2 linked regions of the Homo sapiens genome follow. The protein of the gene in region 1 purifies or fractionates together with the protein of each later gene. This does not show direct contact. Each region holds a gene or a part of one and is shown on either strand. Other genes may lie near its edges.

Region 1 (2,981 bases):
TCCTTAACCACCACCAAGAATAGGATGGGTGAGCTTTTTCTATAATGGGCCAGACAGAAAACATTAGAGGTTTCTAGGTCATCTGGATTCTGTTGCAACTACTCAAATCTAGCTCAAAAGCAGCCAATGGACAATATATAAACAAATGGGTGTGGCTGTGCTTCAATAAAACTTTATTTACAAAAGCAGATAGCCATCTGGATTTGAATCATGGGCCCATAGTTTGTTGACACATGATCTAGAATAACAAATCCTTGAAGATAGTCAAGGCTTTTGGGGGGAAAACTAATAACAAGCAGAGACTTGCTCTATCAGATATCAGCACATAAAGCTACAAAAATTATTTGGAATTGCATTATATTTATGTATCAATTTAGGATGACTATGTAATTTATGTAATTTAGTTTACAGAGAATATTCATTTATGATTTTGAGTCTTCCTATTCAGGAATATGGTATTTCTCTACTGTCACTCAGATCTTGAGAAACAATTTAACAGGGTGGGGGGTGGGAAGGAGCTCCAGGCCAATTTTTAGAAGAAATCCTACCTAACACCAGACATGTAAATAGAATGTCAGAGGACCAAAACCACTAACACCCTGAGATATGTGTCAATTGCGTCCATTCAGACTTTGGTCCAGTTCTGTGAGGGACAACGGCAGGGTCGACCTAAGATGGGGCGTTTTATAGGAAATGTTTCCCATGTTAAGCTGAACACCAAAAGGCTTCACCTTCTGCGATATATGAATAGATTTAAACCCTTCCCCCACACCCAAGGAGACTAGGCTGCTGTGGGCCTCAGCAGAGCAGAAGGGTAAAGAAAGACGGCCCTGAGAATCACATCCAAAAACCAGCCCTGGCAAAGCGCAGGGGCTCACACCTATCATCCCAGCACTTTGGGGGGCTGAGGCGGGTGGATCACCTGAGGTCAGGAGTTCAAGACCAGCCTGGCCAACATGGTGAAACCCGTCTCTACTAAAAATACAAAAAATTAGCCGGGCATGATGGCAGGTGCCTGTAATCCCAGCTACTCGGGAGCCTGAGGCAGGAGAATCACTTGAACCTGGGAGGCGGAGATTGCAGTGGGCCAAGATCGCACCACTGTACTCCAGCCTGGCAACAGAGCGAGACTCTGTCTCAAATAAAACAAAAACAAAAACAAAAAACAAATACGTACAGTTAAAAGACTTAAGTCACAACATACATCCATGAGCAATTTTAGATGGCAGCATTCCCAAAGCCATCCACCCCTCCCAAGCAGTGCACAATAGCCTCTTCCTGATGACTTAGGCTGCCCATTGTGACCACCGGTGACTGCAGCTTGACATCATAGTATATCCGTGAGTCAAGCGGCTGTGGGTTTTTGGCTCTTGCATCTGCTATAGTTCTGTCTCGGGTGCCATTTGCTAACTCTGTTCTCTGTGTAGCTGCTTTTGGCAGCTCCTCATCTCTCTTCTAATCCACCACTCACAGTCCTAGAGAACAGACCACAAGTTAAGACCGTCACCTACAGAATCCCAAGGGCCAAAACTGGGCAGAGGACAACTCCATCCTTCTTACAAAAGGGCTTCTCCACAAGAAGCATTTCCGTTAGACTCTAGCAGTGAGATACCCTGCTTCAAGAATTTCTCATGGAGCCAGAAGCCTTTGAAATTTGCCCTTATGATCCTCACCACCGAATCCCACTCAGCAGATTCCAGTACCACCTGGCATCGTGCAGGAGAAAGAACCCCAAGAAAGCCAAAAAGATGGCCACCTGCAAATACAACGCCTGCCACGTGGTCCCCATCAAAAATCTGGAGGAACATGAGGCTGTTTGTGTCAACAGGAGCGCTGTGGAAGAAGAGGACACCGAGAACCCTCTGAAAGTCAGTCCTCCTAGTTCAGAGCAGAACGATGACACCCAGCAGGTCTCACCCTGCCTTCCCAGCCCCGATATCTGGAATGTCGATGGCGCTAATTGCCAGCATGTGTTTGTCCTTAAGACTTTTTTTCCTCAAAAGGTTGTTTGTGAAAATGACACGAAAGAGTCAGCAAGAGAGACCAGTCCCCAGAAGATCCTCAGACCAGGACAGTAAACTGCCAGCTGAGGAAGGAGCACACGCCTCATCAATGCATGGAAGAACGTGCAATGCATCAGAATAAAAGACATGCAAAGTAAACTACCCTGGGCTACCTCTTTTTTTAACCTGGCAGATTGATAAATATCAAAAGGCTTAAAATACTCTGCTGGCAAAGGTAGGGCAAAATGGGCACTTTCATAACATTGGTGAGAATGTCAGTTGGTACAACCTCCACAGAGGGCAATTTGACAATAGCTATAAACATTATCAATGCATACAGGCTTTGATTGAGCAATTCCACTTCCAGGCTTCATTCTGTAAATATAATCACACATGTGGAAAATGAGCTAAGTACTAGCTTATTCACTGCAGCATTATTTGCAGCAGCAAAAGAGTTAGAAATGAGCCAGGTGTGTTGAATCACAGCTGTAGCCTGTTACTCTGGGAGCTGAGGCGAGAGGATCGCTTGAGTTCAGCCTGGGCAACATAGTGAGATCCTGTCTTAAGCAACAAAAAAAAAAGTCAAAAATGACCTAAATATCCATTAAAAGGGCCTGATTAAAAATAAGTTATACTGCAGCCATACAACAAAATATTATGCCGCCTTAAAAAAAGTGAGGAAGCTCTTTCTGTGCTGATATAGAAAGGTTGAGACACACTGTTGAGCTCAGAGGTCAGCAAACTGTTTCTGTAAAAGGCCAGATGGCAAATATCTTAGCCTTTGTCAGCCACACAGTCTGTGTTGCAACTACTCGGCCCTGCCACTGCAACACGAGAGCAGCCACATATAATATGTAAACAAATGAACAGAGGTTCCAATAAAATGCCTTACAGCCACAGGTGGCAGGCTGGACTTGACTGGTGGGCCATGGTTTGCCAACCCCCAGTTTAACTGATAAAAACCAAGTCCAGGCCGGG
Region 2 (3,824 bases), on another chromosome or scaffold:
TCCCATGTAGCTGGGACTACAGGCATGTGTCACCCAGCCTGGCTAATGTTTGTATTTTTAGTGGAGACGGGGTTACACCATGTTAGCCAGGCTGGTCTCGAACTCCTGCCCTCAGGTCATCCGCTCTCGCCTCGGCCTCCCAAAGTGCTAGGATTACAGGTGTGAGCCACCAAGCCTGGCCCACAGTATTTTATTTTAGTATTTTGTATTTTTTATTTAATAGACTAGGGATGGGGTCTTGCTATGTTGCCCAGGCTGGTCTCCAAATCCTGGTCTCAAGCAATCCTCCTGCTTCAGCCTCCGAAAGTGCTGGGATTCATACACAGTGTTTTATTTATTTTATTTTACTTTAATTTTTTTTTTTTTGAAATGGATTCTTGCTCTGTTACCCAGGCTGGAGTACAGTGGCACGATCTTAGCTCACTGCAACCTTCGCCTCCCAGATTCAAGCAATTCTCTTGCTTCAGCCTCCTGAGTAGCTGGGATTACAGGCACCTGCCATCATGCCCAGCTAATTTTTGTATTTTTAGTAGAGACGGGGTTTCGCCATATTGGCCAGGCTGGTCTCAAACTCCTGAGCTCAGGTGATCTGCCCAGCTCAGCCTCCCAAAGTTCTGGGATTACAGGCATGAGCTACCATACCCAGCCATACACAGTATTTTAAAAACAGAGGAAACAGTTTAGATTGTATATTTCATTTTATTATTAAAGTAACTAAAGCGAAGTAAGATGGTTGTGAGTAAAATCATGCAGATGATGGCAGTTAAACCAGAACCGAGGAACCCCAGCTTCTAATCTAGTGTCGTTTCCAAGTGTATAAATGTGCTCAAGAACTTGAACTAGGATGGAACTAGAATTTATCTAGAGGCCAGAAGAGGGATGGAGGAAGAAAGAATGAATTGAACAAAATAAGACTGGTATCACTATTACCCTCACTTACATGCAGGGAAACTGAGGCTTCAATGATCAGGTAACTTGCCTAAGGTCATAATTTGCATGAAGCAAAACTGACACTGAGCCCAGAGCTGTCACCAAAGCCAGTGTTCTAAATCAATATATTATACTACCCCTAACATAGGAGAAAGAGAGGAGATGGTAGAGTAGACTGTAAGAAAAGGACTCCTGGCTGGGCATAGTGGCCCACACCTGCAATTCCAGAACTCTGGGAAGCTGAGGCTGGTGGATCACTTGAGTCCAGGAGTTCGAGACCAGCCTGGGCAACATAGCGAGACTCTGTCCCTACAAAAAATACAAAAAAAATTAGCTAGCCATGGTGGTGTGCCTGTAGCCGCAGCTACTTGGGAGGCTGGGAGGATTGCTTGAACCCGGGAGGCAGAGGTTGCAGTGAGCTGAGATAGTGCCATTGTACCACTCCAGCCTGGTCAACAGAGTGAGACATCTCAAAAAAAAAAAAAAACACACACACACACACACAAAAACAAAACAGAGAGAGAAGGACTCCTGTTTCCAAGCATAGGGGCAACCTAGACAATGGTAGAGTCATTAGAAATCCACACAGCTTTAAAAGAGCAGCACAGAGGGGAGAAGATTCAGGAACGTGGAAGAGGTACTTCTAATGGCCAAAGCACCCTTTTCTTACTGACAGGATTAGTAAGAGCCACTATTTACAAAGTGCTTACTCTGCTCCAGGAGTGTGCTTTACACATGATATTACGTTTAATGATCATAGCAGAATTAGCAGTAGGTACTATTATGCCATTTCCAGATGCAGAAGTCAACTGACTTGCCTTAGCTCAAAGAGTGAGTAAGAGGCAAACCTAGAACAGAAAAGCACATCTACCTGACTTTAAAAACTGCAGTTCTTGGCCAGGTGCAGTGGCTCAGGCTTGTAATTCCAGCACTTCGGAAGGCCAAGGCAGGTGGATCACTTGAGGTCAGGAGTTCGAGACCTGCCTGGCTAACATGGTGAAACCCCATCTCTACTAAAAATACAAAAATTAGTCAGGCATGGTGGCAGGCGCCTGTAGTCCCAGCTACAGGCTGAGGTGGGAGAACTGACTGAACCTGGGAGGTGGCGGTTGCAGTGAGCCAAGATCACACCACTGTACTCAAGCCTGGGCGACAGAGTGAGACTCCATCTTAAAAAACAAACAAACAGACAAAACTGCAGTTCTTTTCATAATGACGAACTACCTTACACTGAATGAAATCAGATTTGCTTCCTGGGGAGAAGGCAAAGGCAAAGGGGGGCGGGAAAGGACAGACATACCTTCTATGAGAGCAAAGGATTATCTGGCTGTATTCTGTCTTTAGCAGTCCTCACAGAGCCTAGGCAACCCTCAGAATCCCTGAACTGCCTTAAGCCCACCTTTTTTTTTTTTTTTTTTGGAGACGGAGTCTTGCTCTGTTGGCAGGATGGAGTACAGTGGCGCAATCTCGGCTCACTGCAACCTCTGCTTGCCGAGGTTCAAGAGATTCTCCTGCCTCAGCCTCCTGAGTAGCTGGGACTATAGGCACGCACCACCACGCCCAGCTAATTTCCGTATTTTTAAAAGAGATGGGGTTTCACCATGTTGGCCAGGATGGTCTTGATCTCTTGCTCTCGTGATCTGCCCGCCTCAGCTTCCCAAAGTGCTGGGATTACAGGTGTGAGCCACCGCACCCAGCCTTAAGCCCACTTTTAAATTCTTCCCTAGGCTAATCAGTAACCAGCAGAGGAACAGAAGGGGGAGGAAGTAGGAAAGATAGCCAAATCTGGATCTAGATCACTTCTTTACAGAGTTTGCACTATACAGAATAATTAATCCCTGCATAGTAAGTAGCAGAAAAGGTCTCTCGTATTTCTAATTTTCAAGGCAACAGCATAATTCCAGGGGTGAGGAATTAATGATTAAACCAAGAATAGAGTTTTTGTTTTTTTTTTTCCCCAACAGAGATGAGGTCTTGCTATCTTTGCCCAGGCTGGACTCAAACTTTCCAGCTCGGCTGGGCGCGGTGGCTCACGCCTGTAATCCCAGCACTTTGGGAGGCCAAGGCGGGCGGATCACGAGGTCAGGAGATCGAGACTATCCTGGCTAACACGGTGAAACCCCGTCTCTACTAAAAATACAAAAAATTAGCCGGGCGTGGTGGCGGGCGCCTGTAGTCCCAGCTACTCGGGAGGCTGAGGCAGGACAATGGCGTTAACCCAGGAGGCAGAGCTTGCAGTGAGCCGAGATTGTGCCACTGCACCCCAGCCTGGGCAACAGCACAAGACTGTCTCAAAAAAAAAAAAAAAAAAAAAACTTTCCAGCTTAAGCAATCCTTCTGCATCAGCCTCCCGAGTTGCTGGGACTACAGGCACGTGCCACTGTCCCTAGCTCAAGAAGGGAATTTTAACTCCGGATTTATAACATTTCCTTCTAACTAGATTTCGTTCTTTCAAAGTAGGAATTGAATCTCTAGTTCTCTTTGGAATTCCCCCTTTCTCAACAATGCTATGATTAAGGATGTTCATTAAAAAAAAAAAAAGGATATTCATATAGAGAGAGAATGGGAAAAAGCAGAAAGGGGAGGAAACAGGTCCAGAAACAGGTCAAGGGACCTCATGTAAGTACATTAATATAAGAACCTAAGAGAGGTCCTTATAGGACAGCTGTAGAGCACAGAGGTACATACAGGCAGACTCTGTAAGGCTCTTAGGTTGGAGAAGGGACACAGACTCACCGTTGTTTGGAGTGCCACATGGGGACAGAAAATAGCCAACTGCCGCACTGGCTCATTGTGAGTGTTGAAAAAGATAGTCATGGCAACCAGGACATCATAGCTGTGAGCCTGGCAGAAAGCATGGAGATCTGCAAGGAGGTTAGACCTCTGCAGAAAGG

What was found.
Region 2: the proteins of GTSF1L (region 1) and PRUNE1 purify together in Homo sapiens (affinity purification with mass spectrometry; one large-scale study listed by BioGRID and IntAct). This does not show direct contact.

The regions. Positions count from the first base shown.
Region 1 is NC_000020.11:43,725,345-43,728,325, reverse strand, and holds GTSF1L (gametocyte-specific factor 1-like), read left to right. Parts: upstream 1-1,323; 5' UTR 1,324-1,631; coding exon 1,632-2,078; 3' UTR 2,079-2,162; downstream 2,163-2,981.
Region 2 is NC_000001.11:151,028,787-151,032,610, reverse strand, and holds part of PRUNE1 (exopolyphosphatase PRUNE1), read right to left. Parts: coding exon 3,667-3,824; intron 1-3,666. UniProt on the Homo sapiens protein: Phosphodiesterase (PDE) that has higher activity toward cAMP than cGMP, as substrate. Plays a role in cell proliferation, migration and differentiation, and acts as a negative regulator of NME1. Plays a role in the regulation of neurogenesis.